5 linked regions of the Homo sapiens genome follow. The gene in region 3 interacts genetically with the main gene of each other region. Each region holds a gene or a part of one and is shown on either strand. Other genes may lie near its edges.

Region 1 (5,967 bases), on a different chromosome or scaffold from region 3:
TTATGAGAACACCTAGAAGACAGTGCATTTTTTCATATTCAATAAAATGAAAAGAAACCAACCTCTTTTTTCTTCTTCTCGTTTTAGTTTATCTTCCTCTATTTCTTTTGGCAATTTTTCCTTTCTCTCTTTCTCCACATCATTATGCAAATGTTTTGTGGTATAGCTGAGTGCCGGTGAAAGAAGAATCTCTCCATTTTTGCAGAGTTCATCACGAATTTTAATAAAAAACTGCTGAAGTTCTACTGCATCTTCATATATTTCTGAATCTGTCCTATAACAGCATCAAGAGTATCCATTGACATACAAGCTGTTTCTTTTAAACACCTCAATTATATGTTAAATTCTATTAAATGCTTCTTTAATTGATATAGTGGTATTTCTGTACAGGTCTATGAAGAGTATCTTTCCGAAGTTTGTTAGAACAAAATCCAAAGTGTCATTTTACCATGGTAAGCCCCATGCCCACCATTTTCCTTTACTTCAAGGCTCACTTCTTGTACAGCTCATGAAAAACGAAAGGCCTCATGTATTTTCTCTTGGAGATATATGGCACACGCATCAATCGATTCTGGCAGGGGAAGGTGGCTGCCAGAACCAAGAATTGTACCAAGGCTCCACAATATGTTCAACACTTACTCGTATCTATTCTTTGAATTTTTACTTTCTCTTAATAGCAGACCGATGTGTTACATAATAGGCTCTATTTTCTTCCTTTTGGTCCTACATCATGGTTGCCTAGGCTAGTGAGACCCTGTGAATATCGGAACCTAAAGCAAAGCCATGAAAGTATTCTATAATGGTTACAGGCCTCAGAGTTAATGTTCATTTTAGTTTCCCAGAAATAACTGTGTAATTCTGGGGAACCAGCAAAGGCAACATAGTGAAAGATGGAAAAAAGATTATGTATGTCATACCCAGAACTTTTCTGAGTCTCCTTCCTCATTTATGAAATAAAGCGGCCAGGCATGGTGGCTCATGCCTATAATCCCAATGCTTTGGGAGGCCGAGGCGGGAGGACTGCTTAAGGCCAGGAGTTTGAGACCAGCCTAAGCAACACAGCAAGACGCTGTCTCAACAAAAAAGTAGCCTGGCATTGGGGTACACACTTGCAGTCCTAGCTATCCGGGAAGCTGAGGCGGGAGGGTCACTTGAGCCCAGGAGTTCAAGGGTGCAGTAAGTTATGATGGCACCGCTGCATTCCCACTCTGGGCAACAGAGCAAGACCCTGTCTGTTAAAAAAAAAAAAATCAATAAACAGGCCAGTTGTGGTGGCTCACACCTACAATCCCAGCACTTTGGGAGGCCAAGGTGGGCCAAAATGGTGAAACCCAGTCTCTGCTGAAAATACAAAAACTGATGGTGCACACATGTAATCTCAGCTACTCAGGAGGCTGAGGCAGGACAATCACTTGAACCCGGGAGGTGGAGGTTGCAGTGAGCCAAGATCGCGCCGCTGCACTCTAGTCTGGGCAACAGAGTGAGTGAGACTCTGTCCCAAAATAAATAAATAAATAAATAAATAAATAAATAAAATGTGGGGAGTGGGCAAAATAAACTTCAGACTTTAGAATTTTGACTGGAGGAAATTTTATTACTGTTTCTAGTACCACTGTGGTCTGAGGAAGGTTTACATACAATTGTTTTTATTTCATTTTATTTTGAGGCTGGGTCTTGCCCTGTCACCCAGACTGGAGTGCAGTGGCGTGATCACAGCTCACCATAGCCTCAACTTCTTGGGCTCAGGCTGGCTAATTTTAAAATTTTTTGTAGCAACAGGGTGCTCCCTGTGTTGCCCAGGCTGGTCTCGAACTCCTGGCCTCGAGTGATCCTCCCTCTTCAGCCTTCCAAAGTGCTTAAATTACAGATGTGAGCCACCACACCTGGCTGGCATAAATCAAATTCTATTAACTAAGAATACCAGAGTCTAAAAACTTATTCACAAAACTAACCACAAAGGTCTTAGCAGTTACAGAGACATTCTGGTCAGAGGAGTGTGGCCAAGTAGGCCACCTACTGATACATGCCACTAGAGCATCAAACTTCAGAGAGGTCCCCAGAATGCTGCTCCCATCAGCAAAGGTGAACTGACAAACAATTAAAAGACACGATCAATAATCTAAATGGGTGTTTCCGGAAAGTCTCTTTTTTTTTTTTTTTTGAGATGGAGTTTCGTTCTTGTTGCCCAGGCTGGAGTACAGTGGTGCGGTCTCAGCTCATTGCAACCTCTGCCTCCCAGGTTCAAGCGATTCTCCTGCCTCAGCCTCTCAAGTAGCTGGGATTATAGGCACCTACCACCATGCCTGGCTAATTTTTGTACTTTTAGTAGAAACGAGGCTTCACCATGTTGGCCAGGCTGGTCTCGAACTCCTGACCTCAGGTGATCCGCCCGCCGTGGCCTCCCAAAGTGCTGGGATTACAGGTGTGAGCCACTGTGTCCGGCCTTGGAAAGGTTTTAAATATCTTTTGGGGTCATAGAAATGCTAATACTTGTAGGAAAGCAATAAAAATAAAACTTACCAAGGGAAGACACCCCTGAAACACTTTTTTTTTCTTCTTGAGACACAGTCTCACTCTGCTGCCCAGGCTGGAGTACAGTGGCACGATCATGGCTCACTACAGTCTCAATCTCCTGGCTCAAGCAATCCTCCCACCTCAACCTCTCGAGTAGCTGGGACTATAGGCATATGTCACCAAGCTTGGCTGATTTTTTAAATTTTATTTTAAGTAGAGCTAAGGAAGGTCTTGCTATATTGTCCAGACTGGTCTCAAGCTCCTGAGTGCAAGCCATCCTCCCACCTTGGGCTCCAAAAGTGCTGGGATTACAGGTGTGAGCCACTGTACCTGGCCCCTAAAACATAATTTTATGTTTGTTTTCTGAATGAAGATATTTGAATTCTGTTCACTTGAAATTAAAGTTCATTTTATAATAGTGTACAATTTTAAGTATAAAAAGTGAAAATTTCTGTAAATTAAAAGTAAAAAATTTTTGTAAAATTTTTGTAAATACCTTTCATGGTATACTAAAAGGGCAGATCATAATTCCATCATATCGCATGGTTTAGAAATGAACATTCTGTACAAGAGTCACTAAACACCTAGTATATGCTTTTGTTTATTCAAAGCATTATAAAGAATTTATTAGTCTACGAGGTCAGGTATTCATTGAATGTGCAGGAACATAAACGCAAGCTGGAAAAAGAACTCTAAATTCCCCTCAATTGGTAATCTTTTTATATAAGGCAGACATTCAGCAAAAGGAAATAATTAAGAATACAGGAGGCTCTTAATGCTTCCCTTGTTCATCTTCCCACAGGTCTCTTTTACCTGCAAGGGGATCAGAGTGTTTAGTCTGGGAATACTGCCAGCAGTTTAGGAAAGCCAGCAGCCAACTGGCATGAGTCAGCACTGTGCTGTTACTAAATACTGTTGATGGACAAACTATTGTCACCTGAGTGAATTTTTCTCTTGTTACGTCTCACTGTTCAGATTCCTTCTATTTTAGCCTGTGAAGTCCTAGGTGATGTTGGGTAGCAGTGGTGGGTAGGGGTAGGGGTAAATGGTGATGAAGCATGAAGACTCTTAGAGATCAACATGGAAATCTACGGTATGTAGACTTCATTGAATTTATGAACTAATATTTCTGGGATGCCTAGCTTTGTTACTGATAATATAGTAGATAAAGGCATAGTTTATCATTCACTAAATTGATGCATCTCCATCAATTCTTATTAAGTACTTATTCTTAATAAGTACTATAAGCAATCACAATACTATCTTTGTTCACAAAGTTAAGAATGGCTCCCCGTATGTTTTTCTTTAAAAAATTTTTCCTAACTACTAAATTACCAGGGATCCCTTTTGTTTTTCAACAAAGCTCTGGGCATGAGGGTAAAACTGTGTGCATCACTATCTCATAAAAATACACCTTGGACTCTATCTTCCAGGCCTCAAAAGCAAAAAACAACCATGTCAACAATGGGAGAATGAAAAGAGCTAATTTCCTAGAGATACAAATCTTAATTCTTAAAATAAACATTTCATCTATAAGACATAAACGAAGTTCCTAATAATCTAGAAGACAAATACTCATTGAAAGACTCACAGAACTAACACCAAGATGTAATGGGGCTAAGCAGGGAGGAGAGGAAGGGAGGGGTATTAGACTTAAGGACTACTTAAGCCAAGAACAAGAACAGAAAGAAGTCTAAGCTACATGAAAGCAGAGTTTGTTTTGCCCACTGGTGTATTACATGCATCTAGAATATGCTCATTAAGTAGCCTCTCAATAAATATGTGTTGAATAAATGAGTAACTCCAAGAGTTTTTGACTGCAAGATGTCCCTCCATCCTTCTCTTTATTTCTACTCAATTGCTGAAGAACCATATTATTAAGGACCATTTCTTAAAAGTGTCACACATGGGCCTCACCAAACTGGCCCCAACTCTATCCCTGTCTCTTAAACATATCATATTCATTTCCTAACTCCATTTCTTTGCTCATAACATTCATCTTATTTGAAATATCCTCTGGCCTATTCATTTGAACCCTACCTATCATCCCATGCCTTTTAAGGAGAACTGTGGCCCACAGAGTTCCTTACATCACCATCTTTACTAAATATAAGGTTGTGGCATGTTGTCTCATGTGTGGAATTATTTTTCCCTTAAGCGTAAGTCCTGGCCCATCCATCAGACTTCAAGCTTTTAGAGCACAGAGCTCAAGGCTTATCATCTATGGCCGTGCTCCATGACTTGTCCTGGTAACTGGCTCAGGAGTAGCCCTCTGCAGTGGAGAGCAAGACAAGTCACATCATTTACTAGTTGTAAGACTATGGGTAACTTTTCTCTGCCTATGCCTCTAATTCTTTCACATGCAAACTGAAAAGATTATCACTTATCTAGAATGGCTATCATAAGGGTTAGAGATTGCCTTCATAAAGTGCTTAGCATGGTGCTTTACGAAGAGCTGGTGCTTAACACAAGCAGCAAATGTTACTATGTTTTTTTTCTTTTATTTGCAAAGACACTGAAAGCAAACATTACTACTTGCTTTTCTTTAAAGGTTCAGAGCAAATTCTGATTTCATAGATTCCCCAGCTGGCATTACACTGCCTGAAGGTCTAGTTCTAAACATGATAGGCTGTAAGCTCCAGGAAGGTAAGGTTTGTATCTTTTTTTTTTTTATATTTTTCCAACTGTCTCTAAGTGCACATATAAAATACACTGTAATTGCTGAATTTAATAGTCAAGTCTGCTATTGACATGTAGCAACGATATATCACAGATAAAAATTAGAAGGAAATTTAAGTTTAAAGTAAATCTAAATTTGATTGCTTCTTTTAGAACATTTAATGTCTTCAGCAAGCTCTTAAGGTGAGAAACCTGAGATTAAAAAAAAAAAAGAAACCCTCTGAGGTACTTAAAATGGTGATCAAATTTCTATCAGTCTAACCTCAGGACAACACCTTAGAGCTATTTTATTTAAAGCATTCGTGCACTGAAGCCAAACCTTAAAAGAAAAACGCTGTTACTATTTCCAATTAGAAACATTTATCTTTTTAAAAAACACATTCTATGAAAGGCTGTATTTTAAGTTTATGCTTTTCAAGAGATTTTCAATTTTGTCTTCCTCCTCACTGGCCTTAAACTAGATGACTTAGTGGTGTGCCTTCTCTCCCCCACAGAATATACTCACTCTTAAGAAGTTCTGGCTGATTAGAATTCAGAATAGCATGCTACCAACTACAAATCATGTATGTAAGTGGAAATAGTACATCAAAGCAATATTCTTTCATCTGTTTTGTATTAAATAGCACATATCCTCAAAATAAAAATGGCTTTGAAAACATACCGATTCATCCTTCTTGCTCGTTCCAATACTTCAAACATATGCTCTTGAAATAAATCAAGCCGACGGTAGCGATTATTTTCAACATTCTTCCTAATTATGTCAAATGTAAGGGG
Region 2 (5,967 bases), on a different chromosome or scaffold from region 3:
ATCTTAAACTCAGCTTCTCTTTTAAAACTCAACTATCTAGATATTAATGGATGTGGTCATTATATACATGGGTAAAATATAAGGGTTTTTATTAGTCATACCTTTTCATATGTGGCTCTATCACTATGCCACCTGGTCACAGTCTCTAACATGCAGCAAAGAAACCTTCCGTATCGACTGGCTTCATTTTCAGTACAGCTTGCAACTGTGTAAATTATGTCAGAGAAAACCTACAGGAGAAAAATGTTTAAAAAATATAAACAAATCAAGGTCAAAATCAGTTAAAAATATTAGAAGATTCTCTTACAGCAAGTCATAATAAACAGGTAAGCCTAGTCAAAATGTATATTCCCTTTATATAATGACACTGCAGAGAACTTTGGAGATTTTGGCTTTTGTGGGGAAATAATGCATTCATAAAACAACCACCCAAAACAAGAACTTTTATAAAGAAAGCTGATTTACAGTGACAAGGAAAAAAAAATTTATCATTATTATTACATAATAAGTTGTTTTTTTTTTATTACATAATAGTTTCTTAACCACTTAGCCATACATATTACTGGGTTTACGGGGAGAGTAAGCAGAGGAAATGCTGATAGAAATTAAAAATATGCAGCTGACATACTGGAACATACATTATGTTTTTTGTTTTGTTTTGTTTTGTTTTGAGACTGAGTCTTACTCTGTCACCCAGGCTGGAGGGCCGTGGTGTGATCTAGGCTCACTGCAAGCTCCGCGTCTCAGGTTCACACCATTCTCCTGCCTCAGCCTCCTGAGTAGCTGGGACTACAGGCACCCACCACCACACCCGGCTAATTTTTTTGTATTTTTTTTTTTAGTAGAGACGGGGTTTCACCATGTTAGCCAGGATGGTCTCGATCTCCTGACCTTGTGATCCACCCGCCTCGGCCTCCCGAAGTACTGGGATTACAGGCATGAGCCACCGCACCCGGCCACATTATGTTTTTAAACCACAAAATGTAGTAATAAGAAAAAAGCTAAATGCAAAATGTGCATATGACCATACTGAAAAGCTTCCCTGCTTTTATATGTGTGTGAAGGTGTAAACTTTTTTGTCTTTTTTTTTTTTTTTGAGAAGTGAAGGTTAAGAATGGAGAAGAGAGTTCTACCTATTATGATACAACACGTAAACTCAAATACTTAGTTAATAGTTTAACCTTGAGTGCCTATTACATATCAGGTACTTTTTATGTGTAGTGATTCATTTAATCCTCACAACAATCTTATGAAGCAGGTACTTATGCTTTACAGATAAGAAAACAGGCACAGAGAGGTTAAATAACTTGCCAAAGATCATACAGCTAGAAAGTAGTAGAGCTAGGATTCAAGTTCAGACACTTGGTTCTTGAGTTCATGCTTTTTAACTAAACACACAATAATACCTCTATAAATTATAATGTTAGCTATCTTTGTGTGAGAACTTTTTAAAGGTTGCAATAAAAACTTACTCGATCATAGCAAAGAAGTGTGGAAAAATTTGGAGTTTTCTGTTGATGTACCAATTCAACAAAACGAGCACAGTAAACAGCATCAATTGCTGAAAAAATACATCGAGGAAATATACACAGCTGTAGAAATTTTGTGATGGTCTCATTTTTGGTAGATTCTAAAAATAAAGGAAGAATATATTAAGTGGTAAACTTCTTCCCCAAGTGCCTCAAAGCCACTAAACATGACAACATATTACCTTTAGTGAAGAGAATACTATAAACCACAAACTATTTATAGTTTGTAACCAAATGTCATGCCTGGTCATGATTATCATTTTTACTATGTGGACCTTTTTTTCTATGATTTCTCCAGAAATATGTTTTATACAGAAAAGCTGAATGACAAGCTGCCAATATGTAGTTAAAAGTTAATTAACTTCACCAGCAAACTATATCAGTTCCTCCAGTGAACATGAAGTTGATTCTGCATTAACAAATAACCAAAGAATGGGATAGGGAACACTGAGTTGAAATACAAACATAATACACTTTAACACCTCTAAAGTTATAATGTTTTGTTTTCTGTAATTTACCAGCATCAGGAACCTAACAATTCCAACAACTTACTTGCTAAAAGCCAGTTGTCCTTTTCCAGTTTCAATCTCTGTAGAACTCTCTGTACATGTTCCATCTGTTTCTTTTCTTCTTCAAGAAGCTTGTCCTGAAGGGCAGTACAGCGCTCCTTCTCTTTTTTCTTTTTATTTGGGGGCTACAAAGAATTCAATTAGACACTTTTCTAACTATATGCACATTACCTTTCTTCTTTTAATTGAAAAGTTTAAAGAGATAAAGGCTGATAGTTTATAACTACTTTAACATGAATATAGGTCCACTTGAACGTGCTACTTTTATCTCCATTCAACACACTCATAACACTGTCATGGCATCTTCATACACCATCAGAACAGGCTACATTTGCAACACTGACACTATTAGTCTCAGGCATGGTGTCATCTTTGACTCTTCCCTCTCCTTTATATCAAGACTGGTTTACAAGCCTTGTACACTGCCACTACCTCCATCAGTCTATGCTCTCACAATAGACTGCCCAAAAAGCCACCTAGCTGGTCTTTAGCCTAATGCTAGTCAAAAAGCATCTTTCATACTGCTGTCATGAGTAATCTTTTTTAAGTACCATTTTTTACATTACTATCCTGCTCAGGAATCTAAAATAGCTCTCAATTTTACCAAGTCTACTTTTCTCCCTGACTTCCAATGCCTACATAATCTGGCCCCATCATAACTATTCATATGAATCACTAAGTACATTCACTACATGAAAGTGAATCAGTAAAAGTGGTCTCCCTAAACCTCAATCTACTTCCTGTCTTTGCTGGAACCCTATGGTGACCTCCCTATCTGCTTCCATATTTCCAAACCTAATCTACCTTCAAGGCCTGTCCATTTCAAGACTCGGCTTCTCAATAGTCTTCTCCTAAAGAACTCTCCTCTTGAGAACTACTGCTCTTGCTATTAGAGTCACATGAATCACTTTAAGTTACTAGCATAGTCGTCAGTAGAAAAGGACACTCAAATAATTTTTGATTAATCATAACCTCCACCTAGTCACCAAACTCCTGGCCCCCCACTCAGAAGTAACTATTAAACCCCATTTAAGAAAATATTATATAGCAACAAGATCACTGTTTTAAGGAACCAGAGCTAAAACAATTTCAAAATATAGGTAACATTGAATACCATAAAGTTATTGCACTTGAACTACTAGAACAAAAACCTACCATTTCCTGATTGTCATCAATTGCTTTCATCTGGACTTTAAGTTTATTGACTTCTCGTTCATAGCTGGTGTGTGGAACTGCAAGGTCATACATTGTCAATGACCAGAATGTAGCATAGAATTGAGGGCTGATGTCATCCCAGACTTTGGAAACATGTAAGGAGACCACTGCTTCATGGACAGGCGCCATCACCATCTCACATGATGTAATGTACTTATGAACTTTATGTTGCTGTTTACTTCCCTTTTCTGATTTTTTAAGTTCATCATACTTTGACTGTAGATAAAAAGTAAAAATACATACATACATACACACACAACATAATTTATAGCTTTGACTTTCATGGCATAAAAATCTATATTCCCTTCTAAAGAATCAAAAGATGACCAATCTCAAAACTGTTGTAGAAATTCTAGTTTCTTATGAACAACGTTTATTTTAAGATAAATCATCTCTGGAAGCTATTCCAGTCTTTAGTACTGTGTGCCAACTAGGAGATTCTCAGAGGGTTCTTATCTAATCTGACCTGTTGAGTAAAGTGAACAGGGTATATGCATGTTCTCCTCTTTCATTCCCCCACCCTACTCCCTCTTGCTGCTGTATCAGGGATTGAACATGTAGGGTTTCCAGTCCTGCTTTTGAGATATTCAAGGGAACAAATAGAAGGTCTTAACATGAGAAAAGAGGAAGAATGGAACTAGTAATAGCCAACTAGGACAGAATGTAGTATCACTACATGCAGACCCTACCAACTGTTAAAATTTGTCAATTAAAAAGCTGGATCAAGAGACCAAGGCGGGCAGATCACTTGAGATCAGGAGTTTGAGACCAGCCTGGCCAGCATGTCAAAACCCCATCTCTACAAAAAATTAGCCAGGCGTGGTGGCGCAGGCCTGTAATCCCAGCTACTTGGGAGGCTGAGGTGAGAGGATCACTTGAACCCCAGAGGCAGAAGTTGCAGTGAGCTGAGATCATGCCCCTTCACTCCAGACTGGATGACAGAAGGAGACTGTCTCAAAAAATAAAAATTAAAAAAAAAAAAAAAGCTGGATCAACACTAAGAAAAGTTATGAGAAATTTGTTTTAAGACTGCTAAGTAGGGTGACCAATTGTCAGGGTTTGCTGGGGATTCAGGGATTTCTGAGGATTTAAGACTTCAGTGCTAAAACTGGGAACATCCCAGGCAAACCAGGACCAACTGGTTACTCTACTGCTAAGCCAAATAAATTTTTCTGTGAAAAGCTGTGGTATATTGAAGTTTAAAGCATGTGAGAACTGATGCTGCAGCTTCTTTCGTTTGACTGGTTTATCCTAATTTGGGGGAAAAAACAGAGGAATGCCATATTCTTAATTGTATGAGGAAAAAAAATTGTTAGTACAATGGGAGGGGCTGCAGAGATGTGTATGCCAAATATATTATACATATATATACACACACAAAAATATATATATTTTTTCTATATATTCTATATATATGAAGATAACATATATATGAACATATATATTATACATGAACACACACACACACACACACACACACACACACACACACACATATATATGAAGATAACACAGAGTTGCTGCTATTGTTTCACATCCTTCAGTCTCTTTAGGATGAAAGAGCTCTCATCCAGAAAATTTTGTTTAAGTTAGGTATCACCCTTCATACGAACCTAAAGGAAGTCCTAAAACTAGTTACTTCCTTACGTTAGAAAATCACTTAAATCATTCTATTTGTGCTAAACACGTAACCCAAAACGAGATGATCAAAGGTTCTGCTTCCAGTTCTACACTGTGATAGGCAAAAGAGTCTCAGCTCCTTACAGCTCAGTTACCTGCCTTCCTTCCTGAGTGCTCAATTTTACAATTGTTCTAGAATTTTACAATTGTTCTAGAAGTGGGAAGATTTATGCTCTGTTATCCCCATTTTAGAGAGCATGCTGACAACCACTGAGACCACGTAAGTGACAAAGCTACAAAGAACATTAGTTACGAAAAAGGAGTCCCAATTGCATCAGAAACCTGAGGGAATAGCAGTTGGGAAAACAGAGAGTGTTTTTTAATTTAGAGGACAGGTCTTATTGAAGGTAACTAATATGAATCTAGATGAGCAGAATGACTTCTGCTAAGGTTCTAACAAAACGGGATAAAATAGGGCTGACATTATCTGCATAAAAGACAGCCTAATTACCTGTTCTGGGCAAGATCTAGAATATGAACTAGGTTAAAAGCCTATCTTTCAGACCTGTGTCTCAAGGTGGACCACAACCTCAACAATTAAAACTAAAAATTAGTTTATAGGTATGAGAGGGTTACATGATAGCTCCAATCTCCCCAGTCCTCTGGGTCTGAATCTGTGATTTCTATTGCTAGGAACCCCATAGTCACTATCTAGTTAGAAAAATAGGCTTGGTCAGAAAAGAAGGCTATACTTCGTATTTACCCAAGATGAATATGTCCTTGTCTAAAGTCAGTTTAACTCCCACTTCAAGTTCACACCTTCAGTCAAATGAAGAGACATAACAGTTCTACATTTCAAATTGCCTGGGGAACTAGACTTATGGAATAGAACTGATATCCACAATTATTGCTGTACTTCTCACTATTGTTCAAAAATCTCGTCTCAAGAATCTGAGCAGGCCAGGCACAGTGGCTCATGCCTATAATGCCAGCACTTTGGGAGGCCAAGGCAGGCGGATCACCTGAGGTCAGGA
Region 3 (5,967 bases):
AGAGGCTGAGGCAGGAGAATGGCGTAAAACTGGGGAGGTGGAGCTTGCAGTGAGCCAAGATCACACCACTGCACTCCAGCCTGGGAGACAGAGCAAGACTCTGTCTCAGAAAAAAAAAAAACACTAACACTAACAACAGCTGATGAACTTAAAACCATCCTGAGCTGTGGGTTGGACAAGCTTGACCTAATACATCCTTCCCTGGGCAAAACTACCCTTCTTTATTATGTCTGCTTTAACAAAAAACTATTTTGGTGGGTCTTCACATTCTCCTTACATGTGAGCTATTGATATATTCAGTGCTGATCTGTAGCAGTAACTCTGAAATTGGAGTCAGGGGTGGAGTATTACGACTTGACAGGTGCTTTGAAAAAGCCCTCTCATCCCACCCAAGTTGTAAACTGCTGCTCTACAATGCTGAGTGAAAATAAGCATTCTTACATCTCTATCCATTGATGTAGAAAGTAATAGCTGTTTGTCATCCTCTGTTTGTAAAGGACATAAATTAAACACAATTCTTGAATGATTTTGCCCTTCTGATGAGGCACTGAAGAGGGTGTATTTCCGTCTCCAAGATTGAGTGAGATCCCATTGCAACAGTTCACCTCTGTGAAGGAAAAACATAAGCATTAGTTCTTTTACAAACGATCTGAAAACAAGTGACTGTTGAGACAGAGTCTGGGCTCATAGCTGCAAAATGATTTGTTGTCGTTTAAGGAGAGAAAAATTGCATATGCTGAAAATATGCACAAAATATCTCTGGGAAGGCTGGGTGCAGTAGTTCACATCTGTAATCTCAGCATTCTAGGAGGCCAAGGCAGGAGGATTGCTTGAAGCCCCGATCTCAAGACCAGCCTGGGCAACAAAGTGAGACCGTCCCTACAAACAATTAAAAAAATTAGTTGGGCATGGTGGTGCACATCTATGGTCCCAGTTACTTGGGAGGCTGAGGTGGGAGAATTGCTTGAGCCCAGGAGGTTGAGGCTGCAGTGAGCTGTGTTTGCACCACTGCACTCCAGCCTGGGTGACAGAGCAAGACCCTGTTTCAAAAAAAAAAAAAAATTTAATCACAGAAAGGGGAACCAAGTAGCTAGGGAAGACAGAAAGACAGTTTATTATATACTTTCGTTCTTCTTGAACCATGTGAGTATATTGGACTACCCTTTAAACAGATTTATCTCCAGCCACTAGAAGTAGGTAGTCAATGAACTTTGTTTACTGAATGGGCATAGCCATCCAACCTAAGAGAAAATATTATAACCATCTCCCCTTTCTACACTTGAAGTGACTGAAGCTCAGAAAAGTAAAGGGTCTTGCTCAGGAATACAAGGCAGTAAGTGACAAAGTGATTCTGAAATTTAGTTCTGACTTCAGAGTCCATATTCCTAACTGCCGGACTATACTTATGTGATCTTTTTACAGCTCTGTTAGTAGATAGCACAGGCATTAGTCTCATAATTTTTCCATTTCAAATGGCCCATCATAATACAAGCCTTGGCCATTACTTTCTCCATCCTAGGAGGACTTGAGGCCAAATAGAAAAACAAAATATATCTGAGAAAGCATGACCAAAAAAGACTTACCCAAAACAGCTAGATACCAGCTGTGTTGGTTGATTGCTGGGCCAATGGAGTGTCAACCAAAGGCGCTCTTTAACAGTTGGGTCTATACCCCCTCCTCTTCTCTTCAGAAAGGGCAATTTCAAAATCATCACCCCTGCAGATTAAAAAGAAGGCCAGTGGGCACTCAAGACAGTGAAACTACATGCATGAAGTCACCGGTGGTTCATAACACACAGTCTGCGCTGTAAAAGCTTGTTAGTTTGGCTACTTAGAATTCAGATCTCATTTTCCAATGGTTACAATTTTAACCATTATTATGGTTATAATTTTAATCACTATAAATACTGGTTAATACTAGTCTAGCTACATTTAGGTCAAACAAGCTTCGACAGGCTATCTTGACAACCTCAACGTATTAAGAGTATTTTTTTTTTTTGGCCGGGCGCGGTGGCTCATGCCTGTAATCCCAGCACTTTGAGAGGCCGAGGCGGGAGGATCACGAGGTCAGGAGATCGAGACCATCCTGGCTAACATGGTGAAACCCTGTCTCTACTAAAAATACAAAAAAATTAGCCGGGCGTGGTGGCAGGCACCTGTAGTCCCAGCTACTCGGGAGGCTGAGGCAGGAGAATGGCATGAACCCAGGAGGTGGAGCTTGCAGTGAGCTGAGATCGTGCCACTGCACTCCAGCCTGGGCGACAGAGAGAGACTCTGCCTCAAAAGAAAAAGAGTATTTTTTCGTCTGGGAAAATGAGTTCCCAAGTAAAACTGAGAACCCAGCTAGTAACACAGCTGAGTTGTGTACCCAAAAGTATTGCAGTGACATAACTCCAAAGTGAAAAGGACAGAGGTTGGGATTACTATTTCTAGTCGGCAAGAAATCCAACAAAGAAAAATTTGGCAGTGAACGTGCTGTGGGTGGGGAGTACCTCCACCCGACATGCTTCTAATCACCGTTTTTTAAGCTGTATTGTGCATCGGAACCACAGGTGGAACTTTAAAAAATACATACGCCAGGGCCTAACTCCTAGAGATTCGGACTCAGTAGATCTGAGGTGGGGTACAAGAACCTACATTTTTCCAAAGACTCTCCAGCTGATTCTGCTGCACAACCACAATTGAAGGCCATTTTACCAGACACCTCTAAGTCTAGAGGTTACCCTCCTGGAGGGATCCTCAGCCTTATGTTCCCACTTGGAGTTTTAGCTGCAGTATGCCAAGAAGTAGCCTGTAAACCTTAAAAAAGTTCTGTCTTCCCAAATTATACTATTAGTTACCTACCACTGATGAAGCCTGGATGACATTCCAAGTGCTGTGCTACTTGCTTTACATGCATTTGGGCAAATATGATAAAACTATCATGGTTTCAAATAAAGTAGAAAGTACATCCATGCTCATAGCATATTATTTAGAATAGTAAAACATGGAAGCAACCCAAATGTCCATCAGTGTGTGAGATATGAGTTCTAAATTTCTCTTCAAAGAATCAATATGTCAGTATGTTCAATTATTTGGCTTCTGTTTTTAAACTTAACTTCCTCGTAAAAGCAACCTTTTTCGATTACCTGCTCCATCCTGACTCATTCCGATTACCTGCTCCACCCTGACTCATTCTGATTTCCTGCTCTGCCATAACCATTTTTCCTGCCATAACCATTTTCTCCCATCAAACCACTTACCCCGGCACTCTCTTTAAATCAGCGAATCAGAATTAGTTTAGCCTGTGCGGTCTAACCCTAGCTGATAGGGGAACGACACAGCAGCAGGGGCCACATGCGTCAGGGATAAGAACCCCTCCCCTCCGTTGTCCAAGTGTGCGCTCACCATTGCTCCATCTGTAAGGGCGCACCCTTCTATAGAAGTACATTGCCTTGCTGAGAATTAAAAAGAAAGTTTTATATTTGAGTGCTATTTCTTTTGCCACACCGAAATTTTATTTATAACAAGTGGATGAGTGGGTAAGTAAAATGTGGGACATACACACAATGGAATATTATTCAGCCTTAGAAAGGAAGGATATGCTGACATACGGTACCAACATCAATGAACCTCGGGGATATATGCTAAGTGAAATAAGCCAATCACAAAAAGACATATCATATGTATAACTTCACTCAAAGGAAATACTCAGAGTAGTCAAAATCATAGAGCTGAAAGCAGAATGATGGTTGCCAGGGCCTGGGGGAGGGGGAAATGGAGAGTAGAATTCTGGAGATGGGTGGCTGTGACAGTTGCACAACTTTAGAGTGTACTTCATACCACTTAAATGTACACTTAAAAGTGATAAAGATGGCAAATGTTATATTTTCCACCACAGCTTAAAAAACTGCCAAAAAAAATAAAATAAAATGAAGAAAGAAGAGAAGCCCGCTAGAAAGAGAAAAACAAGATTTTTACTATAAAGGTTATATTCTATGATATACTATAAATATTCATTATGCCTAGAGTTTCTCTCAATTTTTAAACTTAAAGATAAAAGTTCTGTTCAAAGAGACATTTGGGAAAGCTAAATGATTGAGGGGCTCTATAATTTGGATAAAATGAGCTTTTACACATAATTCTATGCTGGGTGTATGTAATTTATTCTGCATTTGTGCATTAAAAGCTCTAACTCTTAAGATATTTTCCATTCTCCTGGCTTAGGCCATATCATGTTCTAATATTCCTGTTTTTATTACAAATATTCTGCTCTCCATGCCAAACACTGACCCTTCTATAAAGCAAGAGATCCTTGTCTTCTCCTGGAATGCATGGGAAATACTAATCTCTAAGGCCAGATGTTGAGAGAATAGAGAGTCTAGGCCAGGCTCAAATGAGGAAGCAGAATTCTAGACCAAAAAGTGAAGAACTGCTCTCAAATAGATGACACACCCTCAGGACAATAAGAACAGAAAACCCTCTACTTCCACCAGATCAACATAGGTTACATCACAAAAGAAAGATCAATCTTACCTCGGCCTCTAGAACAGCTCCAGATTCGAATGGTTTGATCTTTGCTTCCAGTGGCTAAGTAGCAACCTTTTGTTACTGGAGCTTGTGCTACAGCATTCCCGTTGGTAATTTCAGCTTCTTCTATGAGATAGGTGGCAATTTTGTTTTTAATTTACATTAAACACGCACTAATATAAAAAAATTAGTTTGCAAGAGTTTCCAAAACTTAGCTATCTCTTTCATAGGTCTGAACTATAAAATTTGAAGTTTTAGGTATAATTAAAATGATATAATTCGGCCTGGTGCAGTGGCTCACGCCTGTAATCCCAGCATTTTGGGAGGCTGAGGCAGGTGGATCACCTGAGGTCGGGAGTTCAAGACCAGCCTGACCAACATGGAGAAACCTGTCTCTACTAAAAATACAAAATTAGCTGGGCGTGGTGGCGCATGCCTGTAATCCCGGCTACTCGGGAGGCTGAGGCAGGAGAATCGCTTGAACCCGGGAGGCGGAGGTTGCGGTGAGCCGAGATCACGCTCCAGCCTAGGCAACAAAAGCAAAACTCCGTCTCCAAAAATAAATAATAAATAAAAAATGATATAATTGTACCCGTTCTGTTCTTCAGGTCTCAAGTGGACTTAACTTTCCCTTAAACCATCTCTACCTGAAGTTTCCTCTTGGTTTATAGATAAACAATCTTCACCAGGCAGGGGACACCAGGCTATGGAGTGGATTTCATCATCATGGCCTCGAAGCCTATGAATAACTTCTCCTTTCTTACTGATGTCAATTATCACCACTATGCCATCCTTGTAGCTAAAAAACAAGAGTTAGAAATATTACTAAAAAAATGAAGACAGAACAGAGTCTCTAGTAAACATTTTGGCTTGGAGTTACCATTGGCGCATTCCTTAAAGTTAGGTGCATTTGGGGTGGCGGAGGAGGGAAGAGGACAAAAAATAATTTTGCTTTTTCCTTTTTTTAAAGTGCTCACCTTATGCCTCCTGGTTTTGTTAAAACCCTTCTCTCTATGATCAAACTCTTGGCACTAGGTAATACTATGTATGTTGCCTGGTACAAAACTCACAGTGGACCATGATTTTGTTCTAAGGGAATTTTCATAGTTTTTGCAAGGGTGCAGCAACTCTTCTTTTTTCCTTCTCTGTTGCCCAGGCTGGAGTGCAGTGGCACAATCACCACTTACTGCAGCCTTGACTTCCCAGGCTCAAGCAATCCTCCCACCTCAGCCTGGGACTGAGTAGCTGGGACTAAAGGTACATGCCATGCCCAGCTAATTTTTGTATTTTTTTGTAGAGATGAGGTTTCACCATGTTGCTCATGGCTGGTCTCAAACTCCTGGGCTCAAGCAATCTACCTGCGTTGGCCTCCTAAAGTGATGGGATTATAGGCATCAGCCACCACACCCGGCCAACTCTTCTAACTAGAGATAATTTTGTCCTAGTGCACTGGAAAATA
Region 4 (5,967 bases), on a different chromosome or scaffold from region 3:
TCGTAGCTGCGCTTGCCCAGGATGGTGGGGGAGCCGTTGTTGATGACGGGGGCCACCTTGGCGGGCGTCAGGCTGCTGAGCACGCTGGACACGCTTTTCACGGGGTCAGGCTTGGGGGGGCGGGGGTGGGTCTCTGCCGGGAATGACACAGGCAGAACGAGTTGCCTCTGCCCAGCAGGGGAGGGGCAGGCAGGCCCAGGCTCCAGCCCTCATGGTTCCGGGATACCCCCAGGAACTAAGCCCCATGCGGCCCCCACCCGAGGCCCCATCCTGACTGGGCTGGAAGTGGGGAGGTCACCACAGAACCAGAAGCCCAGAAGCCCTCGGCAAGGCGTGTGCCCGGGCCAGTCCCGCACCCCAGGGCTTCCAGAGAGCAGGGAGACCACCTGGCGGGGGCCAGGCCCCTCAGCCCCGGGACAACAGGATCCATACACAGGCCCGTGAGCACAGCACGCCTATTAAACAGCCCCCACGTCCAGGCCCCCGGAGCTGCTGGTGGAGGGCTGGCTGCTCGTCAGACAGCGAACCAACCATCCAGCCAGCCTGGCCAGGGACACAGCTGCTGAGGACCAGCCCTGACACCAGCCACCTCTTCCCACAGGACAGGGGCCACAACCCCAAACAGGGAGCAATGCCAAAGCCACTTGAATCTCAGAGCACACTTGGCTCATGACTCTGGAATGTCCTTCTCAGGACAGTCACCCTGTGTCGGGAGGGCAGATGCACAAGCCCACTCGAGCCCAGCAAATGGAGGAGGCCCCCCACCGCCACCACAAATGTCTGGCCCAGCCACCAAGCTGCTTCCAGCTGGGCCAGGGTAGCCGGCTGAGGTTCTCGGGTGTCCTCAGATGCTCAAAGGCAAAGGAACCCCCTGCCGCCTGAGGCTGCTCCTCCCCCTGCCGAGGGCGTGCAGAGGCCTGAGTGCTGCCCCTGTGGAGTGGGCGTGGCTCAGGAAGTATACTCCCTGCAGGCAGCAGGTACGACGCTGCCTTAATGGTATTACAGGCAGGGGTGTGCACCACCTAAACCCCAGACCCTCAGGCCCCAGGGACGATCAGAACACAGGGAACAGGGTAGCGAGACTGGCAGGGAAGCCCCCGGGTGTGCCTTGAGGAGGCTGGCCCCGCAGAAGACAGGGCGGCCGCTACTCCGCACTGGGCCCCATCACGACCCCAGGAGCAGGGAGCAGCCTGGGTCCCAGTGGGTCTGCCTGAGCCTGGCACGGTGCAGAGTACCCCAAAAGGACAGTTCCAGGCCCTGGGGGGCTGTCCAGGAGCTCCCAGCTAGAGAAGGCTGGGAGCACCAGTGCATGAGCTTGGGTGAGAAGCTGCCTGCAGGCAGCATTGGGAGCCCCCCAGCACGCCTGGCTGCTCACCAAGATACCGAAGCACGGCTTCCAGCGGCTTGCGTACCGCCTGCTTCAGCACCAGCGGGCTCTGGGAGGCTTCGGGCAGCCGCGCCGTGCCTGCGGGGTACCACACGGTGTGAGGGGTGGGGCACCCCCAGGGGAGCACGGGACCCTGCCTGCGCCTTGACCTGGGAGCCCTCACTGGGCTCGGCCATGTCAGCACCGAGGAGGACGTGGGGCTCCCTGAGATCAGAACTCCCAGTGGGGCTACAGGCTGGGCCCCAAGGTTGCTGCTCTCTCCCCACCACCCGCAGGAACAGAGTAAGCGGGGCGTTGGGGTGACTCACACTCGGCCTTGATGGCCGCGCTGTTGATGGGCAGGTAGGGGTGCCGCGCAGCGTGCCACGGGCGCAGGATCTCACGGCACAGGCGCCGGGCGATCCGCGTCAGCTTCGTCGTGTGCAGATAGAAAGCCTGCCTGGTCTTCATGGCAAACTTGGGGCTCCCGCTGCTCCGGGCTGGGAGGCCGTGGGGACTCTGCGGAAGGGGGCGCAACCGCCCCAACACAGCGCCATGACCGGGGGCCGAGGACCCGCGTGGCCGACAGGCTCATGGCAGGCAGGGCGGGTGTCCCCCCCCTTACCATGTTACTGCGGTTTGGTCCTGGCCTCTCTCCATCTAACCGGGTTGGCATTTTCAAGCCACCATATTTCTTCCAATATGTCCAACAAGATGCGCAGAGACGACACTGCATGTTAGGGGGACCCCAAGAATACCACTGGTAAGACTGTGTGGCTACGGACAACAAAGTTGGAAATAGACGGATTCTTAAGCAGAACCAGCGATGTCAGAGTATTCCCCGCCACCCCCACGCCGGCCGCCCCCACCCGCCAGGCACCCCCACACGTTCCCCGAGGCTCTCCCAACCACACCCCTGGGACGCAGCCCCCATCGTCAGTGGGCCCCTTGCAGGCTGGGCCATGCTGGAGCCCTCAGGGCCAACGCAGGCACCACGGCCCACAGGCGGGCGTGCGGTGTGCCCCCGGCCATCCAGGGCACTTACTGTAACAGCTCTCGCAGGCCCGGCCAGCCCCAGGGCTCTGGCCCGGCGCCCCCGTGCCGTTCACCACACCGGCCTTGACGTTGTTGACGCTGATTTGGTTCGGATTTGGCTTGTTACTTAAAGAGGGAAAGGAGAGACGAGAGGAGTTGCAGGAGCACAAACCTCGAGGGCCCATGTGCCCAGCAGGCACCGCGGCTGACCACCCCTTGTCCAGAACCACGTCCTCGCACCCCTCGGCCTCGGCAGGGATCTTCCTTTCTCCCCTTTCAGTTCCTGGGAGCCACTGCTGAGGTCTGAGCCGTTCTCCAGGCCCCCGTGCTCCCCCTAGCATGGAGCCCAGCTCAGGGACTGAACCCTGGCGGTGTGGGCTGGAATCCCAATGCCCCCTTACTGACCAGGAGGCCAGGACGACAGAGACATGGCCACTGCGTCTGCAGCCAGAACCCCCCAGCCCTGGGCCGCCCTCCCGGGGGCTGCCCCAACTTTCCCAGCCTCTGAGCTTGAGTTTCCTTGGGACCCGCCTGGCCCCAGCACCCTGTGCCCACCCTCCCTGGCCCCCGGGGCCACGAGGACGACGGCTGTGAGGGCACACTTACTAGTTGGGAATATAAACTTGCTTTAACTTGCTCTCAGCTTCAGCTGCTTTCAAGCGTTTCTTAAAACAAAAGAGAAGGTCAGAGGTCAGCAGGCTAGGCCCAGGTTGGGGCTGCAGTGCAGACAGGCTGGAGGCTACGGAGAGGAGAGCACCACGGAGAGGACAGCCGGGCCAGGGACTCAGGAGTCTTCCTTCCCCTCCTGCTGCAGCAGTGCACGCCCACCTGCTGGGAGAGGATGGGGCGCAGGACGGGGAGGCGGCACACCCCGGGCACTGAGTGGCGGGCGGGCTCACCTGCTGCACGTATCTGTCGGTGGTCTTCCACATGTAGTAGTACTCAATGATGCTGGTCAGCGACTTCCACGGGAGCTGGGTGGGAGGAGGCGTGTCACACAAGCAGGAAGGGGCAGGAGGCAGGCACACCATGCAGGCAGGGGCAGGGCTGCGGCCAGAAGGCCACAGAGGGGGCGGGAGGCCAGAGGGCGAGGTGTGCTTGGTGCACGGAGGCCAGGCCCCTGCTGGCAGGCAGGTGCAGAGGGCAGCTGATGAAGCAGGTCCCCCCGCCAGATGCCAAAACACAGTGACGCCAGGGGAAGAGGAGCTGGCACAAGGTCAAGGTCGAGATCTTGCCGAGGTGGCACTGACAACCCAGCCTCCATCTCAGCCTTTTTTTTGTTTGTTTTTGAGACGGAGTCTCGCTCTGTCACCCAGGCTGGAGTGCAGTAGTACAATCTCGGCTCGCTGCAACCTCTGCCTCCCGGGTTCAAGCAATTCTCCTGCCTCTGTCTCCTGAGTAGCTGGGACTACAGGCACCTCTCAACACACCCGGCTAATTTTTGTATTTTTAGTACAGACGTGGTTTCACCATGTTGGCCAGGCCGGTCTCGAACTCCTGACCTCAAGTGGTCCACCCACTTCGGCCTCCCAAATGGGATTATAGGCATAAGCCACCATGCCCGGCCATCTCAGCCATTTTTGTTTTTGAGACAGAGTCTCGCACTGTCGCCCAGGCTGGAGTGCAGTGGTGCGATCTCGGCTCACAGCAACTTCCACCCCCGGGGGTTCAAGTGATTCTCCTGCCTCTGTCTCCCGAGTAGCTGGGACTACAGGAGCCTGCCACCATGCCCGACTAATTTTTGTATTTTTAGTAGACATGGCGTTTCACCATGTTGGCCAGGATGGTCTTGATCTCCTGACCTCATGATCCTCCTGCCTCGGCCTCCCAAAGTGCTAGGATTACAGGCATGAGCCACTGCGCCCGGGCTGTGGCATGGATTTAAGAAACCTGTCTTATTAAATAAGGGTTCAGATAGTTCCTCAGTCTGGTCCACTGCATCTGGCAGGAAGGAGAGCGGGGCCTGCTCCCTCGACACAGCCCCGAAGCTGCAGCCTCCCATCCCCGCACCTGGACAGGGCCCCGCAGCCGCAGCCCCCCGAGACCGTGCCTGGGCATGGCCCCGCAGCCGCAGTCCCCTGAGCGCTGCCTCGCTAGGCATCACGTGGGCTCAGCACTGGGGTCTCCTCCGCTGGAACCATGTGCAGCAGGGTCTCCCTCAAATTCCGCCCTGGTCTGAGCCTAGTTGGTGAATTTTGTTTCTAGCCCTCGTCCTCTTGTCTGAACATGTTCTGCTCATCTTGGTTTGTTTTTAAGCCTGGAGAGATCCGTATCCGCCTTGGAGAGGCCGCTGGCCCCAGGGACAGTCAGGGACTCCTCCCGCCCGGCCAAGCTCTCCCCTTGGCCAGAGGCCCCCACACAAAGCTGCACTCCTGCCCCCAGCAGATGCGTCCTCAGGAGCCTCACAGCTGGCTGCTGTCCCTCCTCCTCTTCAGGTCTAGGCACCCTACCCAACCCCATGTTTGTTTCTTCCGAATTCCAGATGCGTCTCCAGCCTCTGCTGCGCTGGCCTGTGCGCTGCTGCCCGGATGGTGCTTTCATCAGATACTAGCCACCCCGCTGTGTCCCGGCCCCTTTGGGGCTCCTCCCTGCCCTGCCACAGTCTCCACCTCCCCAGGGCTGATGGTTGGGGGCCCCACCACCCCCACATAGGGATGCTCTTCTAACAGATTAATTTAGAAGTATTTTAGGAGGGCTGACGGTTGGAGGGTGGGGGTCCTGAGGTGGAGGTACAGGGAAGGGAGACCCCACGCCATGAAGACTCTCTAGGCCTGCTGCTGGGCTAAACTCACGTGAGACAGAAAACAAGGACATGAGGAGTCAAGAGGTTCAGCTTAGTCAAAAACAAAGCAAAACCAAGCCTGGGGCTGGAGGGGGCAGCAAGGAAGGGAAAGTCTCCGTGAGGATACCCTGGCCTCCGTCACCTGGGCCAACCCTTATCCTCATCACGCAATGGTGGCAGGAGCATGGCTCTCTATGCCCAGGCCCCACCAGCGCCCCCATGCCTGTCTGCTGAACCAGTGTGACAGGAAGGACTATGGCGGCCGAGCGCAGCTGAGACAGAACTCATGCAGCTCCGCACAGGGAATCAGGGTGCAGGACAGGCTCCCTCAGGGCAGAGTGGGATGTGGAGCCCACACCCCCGCAGCCTACCTGGAGATGGGCATGGCCAGCCACTCCCCCATCGCCACCCACGGTACTCACAAAATCTTGCTGAATGTCCGTGAAATCCTTCCCATATTTTTCCAGGGCTTCCTCGAAAAGGTTGGCCTCTGATGCAGACCACTCCTCCATCTCGTCCCTGCAGAGCACGGGCCCGCCCTGCGGCACCAGCGCCGAGATGGCCTTGGAGATGTCGTAGATGTTCTTGTGGAGAGTATCCATGGCGTGGAACTGCGGCAGGAGACAGCAGGGTCACCCGGGCCAAGGTGGCTTTTCCTGCACCTGTGGCACGGTACCCCCTCCCTCAGTACCTCAAGGATCCCCTACTGCAGGCCCAGCAGCACAACCCTCCCTGCACCCTCAGCACAGTCTGGCCGAGTTTGGGGTGGATAGGAAAGGCCAGT
Region 5 (5,967 bases), on a different chromosome or scaffold from region 3:
AGGTTGCAGTGAGCTGAGATTCCGCCACTGCGCTCCAGCCTGGACAACAGAGTGAGACTCAATCTTAAAAAAAAAACAACAAAAGATAATGTGGGGCTGAGTGTAGTGGCTCACGCTTGTAATCCCAGCACTTCGGGAGGCTGAGGCTGGAGGATTGCTTGAGGCCAGGAGTTCAAGACCGGCCTGGCCAACATGGTGCAAGCCCATCTCTACTAAAAATAATAAAATTAGCCAGGCCAGGCACGGTGGCTCACACCTGTAATCCCAGCACTTTGTGAGGTCAGAGCAGGCAGATCACGTGAGGTCTGGAGTTGGAGACCAGCCTGGCCAACAGAGTGAAATCCCGTCTCTACTAAAAGTACAAAAATTAGTCAGGCGTGGTAGCACATGCCTGTAATCCCAGCTACTTGTGGGGCTGAGGCACTGAAAATCACTTGAACCCGGGAGGTGGAGGTTGCAGTGAGCCAAGATCCTACCATTGCACTCCAGCCTGGGCAACAAGAGTGAGACTCTGTCTCAAAAAAAAAGAAAAAGAAATAATAACGTGTTCTGTCCTAGTAGCCACTGATGGTCATTACCTAGATAATTTAATTCATTAGGAGTTGCAAAATGGTGATATTTCGAATCTGTCATTCTTTCCTCATTCATTATCTAGCCTGCTTCTATAAAGAGAAACCTTTTTTTTTTGAGACGGAGTCTCGCTCTGTCGCCCAGGTTGGAGTGCAGTGGCGCGATCTCGGCTCACTGCAAGCTCCGCCTCCTGGGTTCACACCATTCTCCTGCCTCAGCCTCCTGAGTAGCTGGGACTACAGGCACCTGCCACCACGCCCAGCTAATTTTTTGTATTTTTAGTAGAGAAGGGGTTTCACCATGTTAGCCAGGATGGTCTTGATCTCCTGACCTTGTGATCCGCCCGCCTCGGCCTCCCAAAGTGCTGGGATTACAGGTGTGAGCCACCGCACCCGGCCTAAAGAGAAACTTCTAATCAGCTATTTAGTTACCCCCCAGGCACATTTTGAACAGGAAAGGCAAGATAAATGCTTGATTAATTTTCCTTTCGTTTACCAGTTTTTGAAAGAATGAGATAGTTCCTGGCAAGGTACAGTGGCTCACATGTGTAATTCAAGACCAGCCTGGGCAACATAGTGAGACCCTGTTTCTGCAATATTTTAAAGAGAGAGAGAGAGATAGTTTTTAGCAACTTCCAAAGATGACTGATGGGTTTTATTTATTTTGAATATCCTTGTGAACTCATCATTTTTAACGTGCTTTATGTGTTTTAATCCATTGCAGTTATTTTTCCTTCCTTCCATCCATCTTTTTCTCTCTCTCTTTTTTGAGACAGGATCTCTCTCTGTTACTCAGTCTGGAGTGCAGTGGCGCGATCTCGGCTCATTGCAACCTTCACCTCCCGGGTTCAAGCGATTCTCCCACCTCAGCCTCTTGAGTAGCTGAGACTACATGCGTGCACCACCACCTAATTTTGTTTTGTATTTTTAGTAGAGATGGGGTTTAGCCATGTTGGCCAGGGTGGTCTTGAACTCCTGACCTTAAGTGATCCGCCTTGCCTTGGCCTCCCAAAGTGCATGAGCCAACACTCCCAGCCTAAAATTTTTTTATATTATTCTTTTTTCTTTTTAAATCGTAAGTACACAGATTAACCTGCCATCTTAGATTAATGGTAGCATATTATACACAGTTTTCTCTCTCTTTTTTTTTTAGCCACCACTCCTGGTTTGTTTTTTGTATTTTTGGTAGAGATGCAGATTCACCATGTTGCCCAGGCTGGTCCCAAACCCCTGAGCTCAAGTGATCTACCCACCTCGACCTCCCAAAGTGCTGGGATTACAGGCATGAGTCACCATGCCTGGCCACGTTCCTTTTTTTTTTTTTGAGATGGAGTCTCGCTCTGTTGCCCAGGCTGGAGTGCAGTGGTATACAGTCTTGGCTCACTGCAACCTCCGCCTCCCGGGTTCAAGCGATTCTCCTGCCTCAGCCTCCCAAGTAGCTGGGATAACAGGTGCCGGCCACAATGCCTGGCTAATTTTTGTATTTTAGTAGAGACAGAGTTTCACCATGTTGACCAAGCTGGTCTCGAACTCCTGACCTCAAGTGATCCACCTGCCTCTGCCTCCCAAAGTGCTGAGATTACAGGCGTAAGCCACCGCACCCGTCCCCACGTTCCTTTTTTATAGCTGCATAGTAGTTCATTGGTAGATGTACCAGTGGTGATTTAGCCACTCTCCTATTTTAAATTTTCCTCAGAAGCTTCTGAAGTCATCATGAGTCTTTCCCCCTCTTTCCTCCCCATAGTCAAGTGTCTTGAGTGCCATAAAAGAGAACTGTCAGTAGTGTTGGTGACCCTTTCTGCCCACCTAGTATCAATCTTCCAGCCCTTTTTTCATCTGCTGGGGCCTGACATTTGGCACCTGAATAATTTTAACTCTGTGTTTTAACTCATTTCTGTATATACCCCAAGTTAGCACAATCCAGTCTAGAGAGGACGGAGCTGTGTATTTGAGTCCTCTTCCATTTCCAGTTCTTTTTCAAGGATGAATTCATTTTCTTGTTGAGAAAACCTAGGTAAACATCTCTTCTTTCTTTCTAGCTGAGCTCCTTGCCAAAAAACAGCCATTAAAAACCAGTGAGGTCTACTCTGATGATGAAGAGGAGGAAGAGGATGACAAATCCAGTGAAAAGTCAGACCGCTCATCACGAACATCATCGTCTGATGAAGAAGAGGAGTAAGCTCTTGTACATTTTGGTCTAGTAGGCAGGATAGGTGGGTTTTTGAGGAAGAGCTTGGTATCGTTTCCAAAATCTCCCTGGTTGGGCCACTAACTCTGACATGGTTACCTTTGGTTTGCTGAACTGAGTTCCCCAGCACGTCAGCCCATTCATTTGGCTGCTAGCCTGTACGCTTAGACATTTCACCTGGGCCTGGAAGGTAGGAACTGACTTCGTGTCATTCTCAGATTGGCCTGGAGCTTTCATTCATTTTCTTTTTTTTTTTTTTTTTTTTTTTTTTGAGACGGAGTCTCGCTCTGTCGCCCAGGCTGGAGTGCAGTGGCAGGATCTCGGCTCACTGCAAGCTCCGCCTCCCGGGTTCACGCCATTCTCTTGCCTCAGCCTCCCAAGTAGCTGGGACTATAGGCGCCCGCCACTACGCCCGGCTAATTTTTTGTATTTTTAATAGAGACAGGGTTTCACTGTTTTAGCCGGGATGGTCTCGATCTCCTGACCTCGTGATCCGCCCGCCTCGGCCTCCCAAAGTGCTGGGATTACAGGCTCATTCATTTTCTTACTCTGATGGGTTATCTAAGATGGCAGCCTCATTTGAAACAGCTCATACTACTGGTCAGGAACAGGATCCTATTACAAGTCTTTGCTGGTGCTTCATTTACTTCTCCTCCTAGGCCAGTCACATGTACTTTGGTTAAGTTTTGAGGAGTTGATATTATTTTTCTGTCTTGTTCTGTTTTTATGATGAACATTTTTTCCAGTGCCCCTTTGTTCCTCTTAGGAAAGAAGAGATCCCTCCCAAATCCCAACCAGTTTCCTTACCTGAAGAATTGAATCGGGTTCGATTATCACGGCATAAGCTAGAACGCTGGTGTCACATGCCCTTCTTTGCTAAAACTGTCACAGGATGTTTTGTGCGGATTGGCATCGGAAACCACAACAGCAAACCAGTTTACCGGGTTGGTATTTCTTCCCTTGGACAATTGTCCATGCTTTCAGTATAATTAGTCTCAACTGAGGGCAGGAGCTACTGAAAAAATCGATCACTCTTCTCTCAGCATTTGATGGAAAGTAGACTCCAAGTGGGATCCCCATAGAGCAGTGAGGTGCCCAGGAATCCTTCATGACTTGTTGCCAAGAGGAGGACTTGGAGCCCAAGGGCCTGGAAGATTTGGATGTAGAATAATTTTCTCTATTCTCCCTTCAGTATAAAAGGGAGAAGGGAGGCATCTATGAAGTGTTCATTGGGAGTTACATAATCTAAAAGATTTGTTCATTTGAAAAACCAATGAATGAAAAGTTTCATGTTGCATACCAAGTGACTTCTACACCAGGGAATTGTATTGAGGTTAAAAAAAACCCTCCAGACTAATACAGGTTATTATGTAGGTTCCAGCACTGCTTCTGTGGTCTAGGTGGACTGGGCACAGTGGCTTACTCCTGTAATCCCAACACTTTGGGATTTATTTATTTATTTATTTATATTTTATTTTACCATTATTATTATTTTTTTATTTTTATTTTTTGAGACGGAGTCTCATTCTGTCACCCAGGCTGGAGTGCAATGGCGTGGTCTTGGCTCACTGCAACCTCCGCCTCCCGGGTTCAAGTGATTCTCCCGCCTCAGCCTCCCAAGTAGCTGGGACTACAGGCGCATGCCACCACACCTGGCTAATTTTTGTATTTTTAGTAGAGACGGGGTTTCACCATGTTGGCGAGGCTGGTCTTGAACTCTTGACCTTGTGATCCACCTGCCTCAGCCTCCCAAAGTGCTGGCGTGAGCCACCGCACCTGGCCTATTTTTATTTTTATTTATTTGTTGTTTTTTTTTTTCAGACAGAGTTTCGCTTTTGTCGCCCAGGCTGGAGTGCAATGGCACGATCTTGGCTCACTGCAACCTCCGCCTCCTGGGTTCAAGTAATTCCCCTGCCTCAGCCTCCCGAGTAGCTAGTGTTACAGGCACCCGCCACCGTGCCTGGCTACTGTTTGTATTTTTAGTAGAGATGGGGTTTCACCATGTTGGCCAGGCTGGTCTTGAACTCCTGACCTCAGGTGATCCACCTGTCTCGGCCTCCCAAAGTGCTGGGATTATTGACATGAGCCACTGAGCCCGGCCTTATTTTTAATTTTTTGTTTTTTATTTTTGGAGACAGAGTCTTACCCCGTTGCCCAGGCTGGAGTGCAGTGGCACGCTCTTGGCTCACTGCAGCCTCTGCCTCCTGGGTTCAAGCGATTCTCATGCCTCAGCCTCCAAGTAGCTGGGACTACAGGCATGCGCCACCACGCCTGGCTGATTTTTTTTTAGACTGAGTCTCTTTTTTTTTTTTTTTAGACGGAGTCTCGCTATGTGGCCCAGGCTGGAGTTCAGTGGCACGATCTCGGCTCACTGCAAACTCTGGCTCCCAGGTTCACGCCATTCTCCTGTCTCAGCCTCCCCAGTAGCTGGGACTACAGGCGCCCGCAACCACGCCTGGTTAATTTTTTGTATTTTTAGTGGAGATGGGGTTTCACCGTGTTAGCCAGGATGGTCTTGATCTCCTAACCTCGTGATCCGCCCGCCTCGGCCTCCCAAAGTGCTGGGATTACAGGCGTGAGCCACCGCACCCGGCCTCACTTTGGGATTTAAAAAAAAATTTTTGTAGCAACAGCCTCTCTCTGTTTCTTATGCTGGTCTCAAACTCCGGGCCTCAAGTGATGTTCTGGCCTCAGCCTCCTAAAGTGCTTGGTGTTGGTTTTTTGTTTTGTTTTGTTTTGTTTTTTTGAGACGGAGTCTCGCCCTGTCATCCAGGCTGGAGTGCAGTGGCGCGATCTTGGCTTACTGCAAGCTCCCACTCCTGGGTTCACGCCATTCTCCTGCCTCAGCCTCCCGAGTAGCTGGGACTACAGGCGCCCACCACCATGCCAGCTAATTTTTTGTATTTTTAGTAGAGACGGGGTTTCACCTTGTTAGCCAGGATGGTCTCGATCTCCTGACTTCGTGATCTGCCTTCCTTGGCCTCCCAAAATGCTGGGATTACAGGTGTGAGCCACCACGCCCGGCCCAGGTGTTGGGTTTTTTTTTTTTTTTTGAGACAGTGTCTTAACCATGTTGCCCAGGCTAATCCGGAACTCCTGGACTCAAGCCATCTTCCTGCCTCGGTTTTCGAAAGTGCTAGGTTTGCAGGTATGAGACACTGTGCCCAGCCTGTTTGAGATAGGATCTCGCCCTGTTGCCCAGGCTAGCAT

Evidence for each region.
Region 1: changes in GEMIN5 (region 3) and PBRM1 together harm fitness less than expected from each alone (positive genetic interaction), as found in Homo sapiens cells (one large-scale study listed by BioGRID).
Region 2: changes in GEMIN5 (region 3) and THOC2 together harm fitness less than expected from each alone (positive genetic interaction), as found in Homo sapiens cells (one large-scale study listed by BioGRID).
Region 4: changes in GEMIN5 (region 3) and MTA1 together harm fitness less than expected from each alone (positive genetic interaction), as found in Homo sapiens cells (one large-scale study listed by BioGRID).
Region 5: changes in GEMIN5 (region 3) and RTF1 together harm fitness less than expected from each alone (positive genetic interaction), as found in Homo sapiens cells (one large-scale study listed by BioGRID).

Annotation. Positions count from the first base shown.
Region 1 is NC_000003.12:52,603,459-52,609,425, forward strand, and holds part of PBRM1 (protein polybromo-1), read right to left. Parts: coding exon 5,855-5,967; intron 275-5,854; coding exon 63-274; intron 1-62. UniProt on the Homo sapiens protein: Involved in transcriptional activation and repression of select genes by chromatin remodeling (alteration of DNA-nucleosome topology). Required for the stability of the SWI/SNF chromatin remodeling complex SWI/SNF-B (PBAF).
Region 2 is NC_000023.11:123,624,440-123,630,406, forward strand, and holds part of THOC2 (THO complex subunit 2), read right to left. Parts: intron 3,530-5,967; coding exon 3,254-3,529; intron 2,224-3,253; coding exon 2,082-2,223; intron 1,631-2,081; coding exon 1,473-1,630; intron 231-1,472; coding exon 102-230; intron 1-101. UniProt on the Homo sapiens protein: Component of the THO subcomplex of the TREX complex which is thought to couple mRNA transcription, processing and nuclear export, and which specifically associates with spliced mRNA and not with unspliced pre-mRNA.
Region 3 is NC_000005.10:154,926,944-154,932,910, forward strand, and holds part of GEMIN5 (gem-associated protein 5), read right to left. Parts: intron 5,308-5,967; coding exon 5,156-5,307; intron 4,635-5,155; coding exon 4,515-4,634; intron 1,717-4,514; coding exon 1,584-1,716; intron 608-1,583; coding exon 442-607; intron 1-441. UniProt on the Homo sapiens protein: The SMN complex catalyzes the assembly of small nuclear ribonucleoproteins (snRNPs), the building blocks of the spliceosome, and thereby plays an important role in the splicing of cellular pre-mRNAs.
Region 4 is NC_000014.9:105,460,592-105,466,558, reverse strand, and holds part of MTA1 (metastasis-associated protein MTA1), read right to left. Parts: intron 5,795-5,967; coding exon 5,606-5,794; intron 3,376-5,605; coding exon 3,301-3,375; intron 3,067-3,300; coding exon 3,008-3,066; intron 2,528-3,007; coding exon 2,412-2,527; intron 2,144-2,411; coding exon 1,992-2,143; intron 1,886-1,991; coding exon 1,696-1,885; intron 1,466-1,695; coding exon 1,376-1,465; intron 134-1,375; coding exon 1-133. UniProt on the Homo sapiens protein: Transcriptional coregulator which can act as both a transcriptional corepressor and coactivator. Acts as a component of the histone deacetylase NuRD complex which participates in the remodeling of chromatin.
Region 5 is NC_000015.10:41,467,649-41,473,615, forward strand, and holds part of RTF1 (RNA polymerase-associated protein RTF1 homolog), read left to right. Parts: intron 1-2,608; coding exon 2,609-2,744; intron 2,745-3,523; coding exon 3,524-3,701; intron 3,702-5,967. UniProt on the Homo sapiens protein: Component of the PAF1 complex (PAF1C) which has multiple functions during transcription by RNA polymerase II and is implicated in regulation of development and maintenance of embryonic stem cell pluripotency.